Linked DNA regions of Homo sapiens: region 2 is linked to region 1. The links come from fine-mapping of genetic effects on plasma protein levels. A gene starts in region 1. The other region holds a variant in brackets. All regions are shown on one strand. Distances are from middle to middle.

Region 1 (2,193 bases):
GGCGTCTAGTCCTTTCCCTTCCCTTTCTTGGCTGTAAAACAAGAAAGAAATATTAATACCATATCAGCAGTTAGGCTGACCCATTGCAGACCGCCGGCTCCACAAACACCCGGGCATCAGGGAAGGAGAAGATTCTGCCCCCTAGTGGTTTCCAATCAGCTGACTCGGAAGCAGGGGATGGGGCAGCCATTGTGATGTGGACATGGGACATCCCCAGCTTCCTATTTCCACTTGGGATCAGAAAACCTTCAAGTTTCCAGTCCTAGTCCTGGTCACAGCAGCCCTGGGCATCCTCAGCCTCCTCACCTGAGAAGCGGGCAGATTCACCCCTGCCCTGCTGGCCTCGCTGGGCTGAGTCACGAGTGAGCTGAGAGGCCCAGGGTGGGCCTTGACCTCCTCCCAACACTAGAAAGGGCAGAGCTGACCAAATGCTGCCCGTGGCTGGAGAGCTGACAAAGGCAAGCCGTTCCAGGACACTCTCCCTGGGTCCTAAGCCAGATGCTCCAATGGAGTAGTTTGAGTTGGTCCCTATTTGGGCCAGGGAGGATTTATGTCCCCAGCATCACCTGCGGCCTCTCTTGTAGTGCCCATCTTCAGACTTTTCCAGGCAGGGAAGCCAAGTGAGGCGATGTCAGGAAGCCACTGGCCAGGACTCAAAACTTAAGGTTTAACTTGGAATTGTCCCCTCACAGGCGGGGGGGGGGGGGGGCAGCCCCCCGCGACAGCCCCACCCCCTTCTCCTTTCGCTGACCTTTGGCCTTTGCTTTGGTCTTGGGGGTGCAGGGCTTGGTGACGCGGATGGTCTCCTGGCACTGAGCATTGTAGCGCGCCTTCTTCAGGGTGCCTTGGCGGACTTTGGTGCCTGTGCCCCCATCACACGCACCCCAGTTCTCAAACTTGTACTTGCAGTCGGCTGGCGAGAGAGCGGCCCAGGTCAGCGCTGCGCGGCCCGCGGCCCCGCCCTCCGCCAAGGGTCCGCCCAGGCTTCGGCGAGGCTGTGCCCCCCGTCTCCTGCCCTCTGACTGCGCCCCGCCTCACCTCCAAACTCCTTCTTCCAGTTGCAGGGCACCCTGCACCGGATGCGCTGGGTCTGGGCCCCGCAGGTGCCCTCGCGGAAACCCACGCCGCAATCCTTGCTGCTGGGGGTGCAGGGCCCCCAGGCCCACTCAGCGCACTCGCTCCCCGGGCCGCCCTTCTTCACCTTATCTACAACGCGCGAGGAACAGAGTTCAGGACTGGGGCACGGGGAGACTCCCTCGGGAGCCGCCTTCCTGGGGTTCCAGGCTAGGAACCCAGGCGGCCCAGCCCAGAAGTGGAGGGGCCTCGCCTGCCCGTCCCCAGCCCTCCTTCGATCATCCCCCATCACCTTTCTTTTTGGCGACCGCGGAGGTGAGCGCCAGCAGGGCGAGGAGGGTGAGGAGGAGGAAGCCTCGGTGCTGCATCCTGAGGGGAGAGCCCGAGTCTGAATCCCTGGCCCGTCCCCTTCCCCACCGGGGGCCGCGTGCAGGGCCCTCCCACCTCCGCGTGCTCCACTTTCCAGGCCCCAAGTCGGGCTGCTAAGGTGGCGGCGGTGGGAAGACTTGGGGCGGCCCCTCGCCGCTAGCCCGGACGCACCGCTAAGAGGCGACTCCCCGGGGGACGCCTCGAGCCCAGGACGCAGCTCAGACCCCCACCCCCGCCTCCAGCCCCCAGCCCCTAGATCGGCCGCGGCCGGGCGGACCAGGGGCCGCCGCGCGCTCACTCGCTCGCTGCCCGCGCTGCTTCGCTCCCTCCCGCGCCGGGCCCGTCCCGCTCCGGCCGCCGCGGCCCCTTTTGTCTCCAGAACCGGTCTGAGCCGGTCACATGGGCCCCCGCCCCCTCTCCCCACCCCCCCAGGGAAGGACCCGCCCCGCCCCCTCCCCTCAAACCCGCACCGCCCCCGACCCCGGCGTCCCCGCCCCCGCTCCAGCCCGCGCCCCCCGCGCTTCTACTCCGGCGTCCGTGTTCCCGGCCCCGCGTCCTCGCGTCTCCCCGCCGGTGCCCTCTGCGCTGCGACGGCGGCCTCTCCCGGCCCCATCTTCCGAGCGGTGGTCTCCCGACCCCGGGCCCCGTCCCGCCCGCGCACACCGGCCCCCGGCCCACTCCCTGCGCCGCCGCCCGCTGCCCCCATCCCAGGTCGTCCCCTGCCGTACGCCAAGGCCCGGGCCGTTCTCA
Region 2 (8,535 bases), 2.2 Mb before region 1:
GGTCTAACATACATGAAAATACAGGGAACAAAAAACAGGACAACCACGGTAATGTGGGATCTGCAGGTAGACAGGGCTTTATGCCTCCTTTCCTGACTGTAAGTTTTAAGGGAGTTTAGGATGACCCTATATGAGATTAGTAGAAGGGTGAAGGTGACCATACAGATTGCTCCACCATTGAAAACCACAGTGAGACCTATAAAGTAGGTGTCAGTGCATGCCAGTTCCAATAATGGGTACATATCACAGTAAAAATGGTCAATGGCATTCGGGCCACAGAAAGGGAGACAGTATACAACAACAATTTGAAACACAGAATGCACAAAACCTCCAGTCATGGCCAACACAAACAGAAGGATGCAAACCTGTTGATTCATGATGGTCAAATAGTGCAGTGGCTTACAGATGGCCATGTAGCGATCCCAGGCCATCATCACCAGAAGAAAGATCTGCACCACCAAACAAGTGGTCTATAAACAGCTGGCCCATGCAAGCTCGGAAGGAAATAGTCTTTTTATCACAGAGGAAGTCGACAATCAATACAGGAGAAATGGTGGTGGAATACACAGCCTCTATAAATGACAGGCAGGTGAGGAAGAAGTACACTGGGGAGCCCAAGGAAGGGCTGGCAATAATAGTCATGACAATGAGTAGGTTCCCCACCACTGACACAATGTATGTGAGTAAAAACATGACAAATAATGCATTTTGCACATCAGGATCCTGAGAGAAGCCCAGGAAGACAAATTCTGTAATACTGTTATTTTGTCTCATTTACTCTTTTTTCAGGCTTGTATCAGAGGTGAGAGCTCAGGAGAACAGGACCTGTAATGAAATAGTGAACAGGAATATGATTACATCAATTGTGTCACAGAGCATGTCTTCGTTGTTGTATCCTGAATAGAGATTTACACACAACAAATATTTAGGAACTCAAATTTGAGTTCCTCATCAAAGAGCCCCTTTTTCCTTGACAATTCTACTTCTCCTCAAACATTTTAGATTCAGACAGAGGTTAAGATTTCTACCACTAAGTTTAGTGAATATTCTATACAGAAGAAGAATTAAAGTCCCAACAGCCATTCATACATTTAATAACTTCTTATTAAAAATATTTTTCTGGGCACAGAAATCAGCTACGATAAATAGGCAACAGGTTCTTAGTCTCAAGAAACACTCTCTGGTGGTGGTAAGCAACTCTAAATAAATAAATTGACATAGATTTAGTCCTTTGTGTTTGTACTTGTGGTATCTTTATAATATGATCTGGGTAGCACCATGAATAACATCTTCTGAACTATCTCACTCAGGTTCACCGTTTTTTATGAGACTTTGGGTCATTTACTAACACTCTCTGCCCTTTACTTTCATCATTTTTAGAATGGAGATCCCAATAGTCCTTACCTCTTAGAGTTGTTGTTTTATTAAAACAAAGTAAAATGCCTGGAACACTGGCTGGCACCTGGTAAGTCCTCAATAAATGATAGCTATAATTAGTGTTCTTGAATGCTACATTGTTAATATAGGATCAGAACAAATCATGCAGATCTTTGTCAACTTGAAAAGATTTACAGACATACTCCAGGAAAAAAAGGGATAAGATACCTGTAATTCAGGAAAACGTTTTGGAGGCACACAATAAAATTGTATGCCTTATAAATTAATGATTTAATTATATGAATAGTAATTTTACCAGTGGCCAAATGTACTTTGATGATAAGCAAGCAGAATTACAGTGAAAAAGTTGGACCCACCATAAGAAAGAGCTCAGGAAATGAAAAGAAGGCTAAAATGAAAAACAAGGAAACTGTAATTAATAAATGAGTTTTCACAAGCGATAAGATTAATGGGATAGTTAAGTGAGGCTGTATTCTTTTAAAATGTTCTTCAGAAAGATTCCTTTTAGTGACAAAATACAGAAAGTGCAACGTCCTATAGGTCTCTGAGGTGACCCAGGAGGCTTTCGGAGGTAGCCTTAACAAACACAGAACATCCTAGTATTAAAAAAAAAAAAAAGATACTTCAAAAGAAAAAAAAAACACATTGTTTCTCAGAGTCTCTAGATCTGATGGTTAAGGACAAACTTAAATTACAGATAACAGTGGGACAAGTAGAGATACAAACCCAAACTTTCAATTATGCGCTGCTGAGGAAAACTGCAGAATTACTGAACCTCAAATGTAGATAGGATGATTCCATTTACATAGATCTGGCAGTGGAAGAGGACGTGTGCAGAGAGAGTTTGAGCTGTCTCCAGAAGCCAGCTGTGATGAACACTCCATATGAACCATCATATTACCACTTCCAGATGATTTCAGAGTTCTGGCATTGTTGAAGCAATAGACTGATAGAGACACACCTGCTGAAGAACACAAGGGAATAATGTAGTCTATAGCCAATTCTGGTTTTTTTACACCTTACTTGCTGCAATATTTAGTGCCTTTTCCCTCTTACATCATAAAACTAGATTTCAACAGGATTATCCTTTTGACAATTTAAACGTTTACTTATAAAAAATAGGGTATGTGAACTACCTCTACAGTTTAAGTAACTAAAAATATTATACTTTAGGCCAGGCGCAGTGGCTCATGCCTGTAATCCCAGCACTTTGGGAGGCCAAGGTGGGTGGGTCACTTGAGGTCAGGAGTTCAAGACCACCCTGGCCAACCTGGTGAAACCCCATTTCTACTAGGAATACAAAGGTTAGCTGGGCATGGTGGTGGGCATCTGTAATCCCAGCTACTCGGGAAGCCGAGGCAGGAGAATCATGTGAACCTGGGAGACAGAGGTTGCAATGAGGTGAGATCACACCATTGCACTCCAGGCTGGGAGACAGACCAAGACTCCATCTCAAAAAAAAAATTATACTTTAAAAACTAAAAGCATCACTAGGCTTTCAATGCAAACTACTAATTTAATATTTTAATAGAAAAAAAAACAGTGATTTAACAGAGTTGCCTAAAACATGATATTTTCTAAAGATAAAATTCCATAATAACAAAAACCTCTATAATATTGTATTTCACACAGTTTTGCACAACTTGCAGGTTTGTTACATATGTATGCATGTGCCATGTTAGTGTGCTGCACCCATTAACTTGTCATTTACATTAGGTATATCCCCTAATGCTATCCCTCCACCATGCCACCACCCCACAACAGACCCCGGTGTGTGATGGTCCTCTTCCTGTGTTCAAGTGTTCCATTGTTCAATTCCCACCTGTGAGTAACAACATGCGGTGTTTGGTTTTTTGTCCTTGTGATAGTTTGCTGAGAATGATGGTTTCCAGTTTCATCCATGTCCCTACAAAGGACTTGAACTCATCCTTTTCTATGACTGCAAAGTATTCCATGGTGTATATCTGCTACATTTTCTTAATCCAGTCTGTCATCATTGCACATTTGGGTTTGTTCCAAGTCTTTGCTATTGTGAATAGTGCCACAATAAACATACGTGTGCATGTGTCTTTATAGCAGCATGGTTTATAATGCTTTGGGTATATACCCAGTAATGCAATGGCTGGATCAAATGGTATTTCTACTTTTAGATCCCTGAGGAATTGCCACACTGTCTTCTACAATGCTTGAACTAGTTTACAGTCCCACCAACAGTGTAAAAGTGTTTCTATTTCTCCACATCCTCTCCAGCACCTGTTGTTTCCTGACTTTTTAATGATCACCATTCTAACTGGTAAGAGATGGTATCTCATTGTGGTTTTGATTTGCATTTCTCTGATGGCCAGTGATGATGAGCATTTTTTCATGCATCTTTTGGCTGCATAAATGTCTTCTTTTGAGAACTGTCTGTTCATATCCTTTACCCACTTTTTGATGGGGTTGTTTGTCTTTTTCTTGTAAATTTGTTTGAGTTCATTGTAGATTCTGGATAGTAGCCATTTGTCAGATGAGTAGATTGCAAAAATGTTCTCCCATTCTGTAGGGTGCCTGTTAACTCTGGTGGTAGTTTCTTTTGCTGTGCAGAAGCTCTTTAGTTTAATGAGATCCCATTTGTCAATTTTGGCTTTGGTTGCCATTGCTTTTGGTGTTTTAGACATGAAGTCCTTGCCCATGCCTATGTCCTGAATGGTATTGCCTGGGTTTTCTTCTAGGGTTTCTATGCTTTTAGGTCTAACATTTAAGTCTTTAATCCATCTTGAATTAATTTTTGTATAAGGTGTAAGGAAGGGATCCAGTTTCAGCTTTCTACATATGGCTAGCCAGTTTTCCCAGCAACATTTGTTAAATACGGAATCCTTT[C/T]CTCATTCCTTGTTTTTGTCAGGTTAGTCAAAGATCAGATAGTTTTAGATGTGTGGTATTATTTCTGAGGGCTCTGCTCTGTTCCATTGGTCTATATCTCTGTTTTGGTATCAGTACCATGCTGTTTTGGTTACTGTAGCCTTGTAGTATAGTTTGAAGTCAGGTAGCATGATGCCTCCGGCTTTGTTCTTTTGGCTTAGGATTGACTTGGCAATGCGGGCTCTTTTTTGGTTCCATATGAACTTTAAAGTAGTTTTTTCCAATTCTGTGAAGAAAGTCATTGGTAGCTTGATAGGGATGGCATTGAATCTATAAATTACCTTGGGCAGCGTGGCCATTTTCAGGATATTGATTCTTCCTACCTATGAGCATGGAAGGTTCTTCCATTTGTTTGTATCCTCTTTTATTTCATTGAGCAGTTGTTTGTAGTTCTCCTTGAAGAGGTCCTTCACATCCCTTGTAAGTTGGATTCCTAGGTATTTTATTCTCTTTGAAGCAATTGTGAATGGGAGTTCACTCATGATTTGGCTCTCTGTTTGTCTGTTGTTGGTGTATAAGAATGCTTGTGATTTCTTTACATTGATTTTGTATCCTGAGACATTGCTGAATTTGTTTATCAGCTTTAGGAGATTTTGGGCTGAGACAATGGGGTTTTCTAGACATACAATCATGTCATCTGCAAACAGAGACAATTTCACTTCCTCTTTTCCTAATTGAATACTCTTTATTTCTTTCTCCTGCCTGATTGCCCTGGCCAGAACTTCCACCTACAATGAACTCAAACAAATTTATAAGAAAAAAACAAACAATCCCATCAAAAAGTGGGTGAAGGATATGAACAGACACCTCTCAAAAGAAGACATTTATGCAGCCAAAAGACACATGAAAAAATGCTCATCATCACTGGCCATCAGAGAAATGCTAATCAAAACCACAATGAGATACCATCTCACACCACTTAGAATGGCAATCATTAAAAAGTCAGGAAACAACAGGTGCTGGAGAGGATGTGGAGAAATAGGAACACTTTCACACTGTTGGTGGTACTGTAAACTAGTTCAACCATTGTGGAAGTCAGTGTGGCAATTCCTCAGGGATCTAGAACTAGAAATACCATTTGACCCAGCCATCCCATTACTGGGTATATACCCAAAGGATTATAAATCATATTGCTATAAAGAAACATGCACACGTATGTTTATTGTGGCACTATTCACAATAGCAAAGACTTGAACCAACCCAAATGTCCAATAATGATAGACTGGATTAAGAAAATGTGGCACATATACACGATGGAATACTATGCAGCCATAGAAAAGGATGAGTTCATGTCCTTTGTAGGGACATGGATGAAACTGGAAACCTTCATTCTAAGCAAACTATCACAAGGACAAAAAACCAAACACTATATGTTCTCACTCATAGGAGGGAATTGAACAATGGGTACACATGGACACAGGAAGGGGAACATCACACACTGAGGCCTGTTATGGGATGGGGGGAGGGAGGAGGGATAGCATTAGGAGAGATTACTAATGTTAAATGACGAGTTACTGGGTGCAGCACAACAACATGGCATATGTATATATATGTAATAAACCTGCACTTTGTGCACTTGTACCCTCAAACTTAAAGTATAATAAAAAAAAAGAAGAATGATCTCTAGGAAGAAGGAAAAACCTCTGAAATGGAAAAAAGTAAATGCAGGAAAGATGGAAGACTAATTGAAAGAAGAAATATAGCAATAAATAACATGAATATTAATCATATGTAACATCAATAAATACAAAACCAAGAAAAAAGTGGGGATTTATATTCAATACATAATTAATTTTATCCTTTTAAATGAGCAAATTTCTCCTATTTAAGAAACATAACACAATGGTAAGAGCCTTATAAGAGAAACATACTAAATAACAGGATAGAAAGTGAAAATAAAATAATAGAAGAAACTGCATAAGTTCTGACAAAAAGAACATTATTTCCATGCTAATATCAGACAAAACCAAACTTCCATGCATGAAATATTGCCAGAAATAAATGTTTGTAATGCCAAAAATTAGTAACACGAATAAAATGATAAATTGGCACAACTTTATGTTATTTTTGAAAAACAGGCTGACCTAAAAGGAGAAATAGGCAAATCAGCAATAACAGGAAAATTTTAGCACAACTCTAAGTGCTAGAATATACACACAAAAAATTTATAAAGGTATTTAAGGTTTAAACAAAACCATTAATAAATCTGATGCAGTGACATATGAGAGGATCACATACAACAGCTGCAAAATGCACATTCTTTTCAAGAGCATATAAAACATTTTCCAAAGTCAATTATATGCTGGTTCATAAAGCAACTCTCAATGAATTTCAAATAGTCATCAAAATAAAATATGTCACTGAACAACAAGAAAATCAGCTAAAAAATGAAAAACTAAAATTAGCCAGAAATTTTCTATGGCTCAACATTAAACAAATCACTCCTAAATAATCCATTGAAAAATAAATCACAGAAGTTAGAAAATATTTGGGCCTAATAATAATGAAACTACAACAATATCAAAGCTTGTAAGTCTCAGCTAAAATATTACTTGTATTTGCTTGAAAATAATAAAGACTAATGCCGCAATAAACATACGTGTGCATGTGTCTTTATAGCAGCATGATTTATAGTCCTTTGGGTATATACCCAGTAATGGGATGGCTGGGTCAAATGGTATTTCTAGTTCTAGATCCCTGAGAAATCGCCACACTGACTTCCACAATGGTTGAACTAGTTTACAGTCCCACCAACAGTGTAAAAGTGTTCCTATTTCTCCACATCCTCTCCAGCACCTGTTGTTTCCTGACTTTTTAATGATTGCCATTCTAAGTGGTGTGAGATGGTATCTCATAGTGGTTTTGATTTGCATTTCTCTGATGGCCAGTGATGATGAGCATTTTTTCATGTGTCTTTTGGCTGCATAAATGTCTTCTTTTGAGAAGTGTCTGTTCATGTCCCTCGCCCACTTTTTGATGGGGTTGTTTGTTCTTTTCTTGTAAATTTGTTTGAGTTCATTGTAGATTCTGGATATTAGCCCTTTGTCAGATGAGTAGATTGCGAAAATTTTCTCCCATTTTGTAGGTTGCCTGTTCACTCTGATGGTAGTTTCTTTTGCTGTGCAGAAGCTCTTTATTTTAATTAGATCCCATTTGTCAATTTTGTCTTTTGTTGCCATTGCTTTTGGTGTTTTGGACATTGCGGCATTATTCACAATAGCAAAGACTTGGAACCAACCCAAATGTCCAACAATGATAGACTGGATTAAGAAAATGTAGCACATATACACCATGGAATACTATGCAGCCATAAAAAATGATGAGTTCATGTCCTTTGTAGGGACATGGATGAAATTGGAAATCATCATTCTCAGTAAACTATCACAAGAACAAAAAACCAAACACCGCATATTCTCACTCATAGGTGGGAATTGAACAATGAGATCACATGGACACAGGAAGGGGAATATCACACTCTGGGGACTGTTGTGGGGTTGGGGGAGGGGGGAGGGATAGCATTGGGAGATATACCTAATGCTAGATGACAGGTTAGTGGGTGCAGCGCACCAGCACAGCACATGTATACATATGTAACTAACCTGCACAATGTGCACATGTACCCTAAAACTTAAAGTATAATAAAAAAAAGAAAAGAAAATAAATAATAAAGACTGAAAATCAGTCCACTAAATATCTATTCAAGAAATCATTTCACTTAGCATAATGTCCTCTAGGTACATCTATGCTATCACATATGATATAAAAACATCATCTGCACTCCACAAATACACACAATTACTGTTTGTCAATTAAAAACAAAATAAAACAAAGAGGTTATTAAGCCTTCCAGGTTCATTCATATTGTCAAAAATAGCAGAATGTTAGTATAAGTGTGCATGTGTACATTAGATAGATGATTGATGATAGATAGATGATAGAGATAGATAGATAGATAGATAGATAGATAGATAGATAGATAGATGATAGATAGATAGATAGATAGATAGACAGACATATAGATATCACATTGCCTTTATCCATTCATCTGTCGATGGACATCTAAGTTGTTTCCATATCTTGGTGATTATGAATAATGCTGCAGTACATATGGGAGCCCAGGTATGTCTTCAAGATACTAATTTCATTTTCTTTGGATACATACCGAGTAGTGGGATTGCCGGATCATATGGTAGTATTATCCTCCATAGTGTCTTCTATAATGGCTGTATCAATTTACAT

Which allele goes with the higher level. Alleles are on the strand shown, and positions count from the first base shown. The strength of an association depends on the size of the effect and on how common the allele is.
In carriers of allele C in region 2, the plasma level of the protein whose gene starts at base 1,831 in region 1 tends to be lower than with T alone (moderate association).

The links. A credible set is the group of variants that fine-mapping cannot tell apart. PIP is the chance, under the fine-mapping model, that this variant and not a neighbour inherited with it causes the effect. Protein levels are from antibody-based Olink assays in UK Biobank. Linkage for the fine-mapping came from a reference panel and not from the study's own genotypes, which makes the PIPs less certain.
Region 2: its variant is the best candidate, but not a certain one, in a credible set for the plasma level of the MDK protein (UK Biobank, PIP 0.79).

What each region holds. Positions count from the first base shown.
Region 1 is chr11:46,381,307-46,383,499 of GRCh38, reverse strand. It overlaps MDK (midkine), which reads right to left and starts at 1,831. Exons shown (of 5, transcript NM_002391.6): 1 at 1,742-1,831; 2 at 1,367-1,443; 3 at 1,039-1,206; 4 at 752-913; 5 at 1-31. The coding sequence starts at 1,442. The coding sequence ends at 6. RefSeq lists silencers at 847-1,141, 1,117-1,166, 1,587-1,696, 2,127-2,193.
Region 2 is chr11:48,571,675-48,580,209 of GRCh38, reverse strand. It overlaps the pseudogene OR4A45P. Among named protein-coding and RNA genes, the nearest start is that of OR4A47, 87 kb to the right of the region's middle. The variant C/T (reference allele first, on the strand shown) is at 4,258.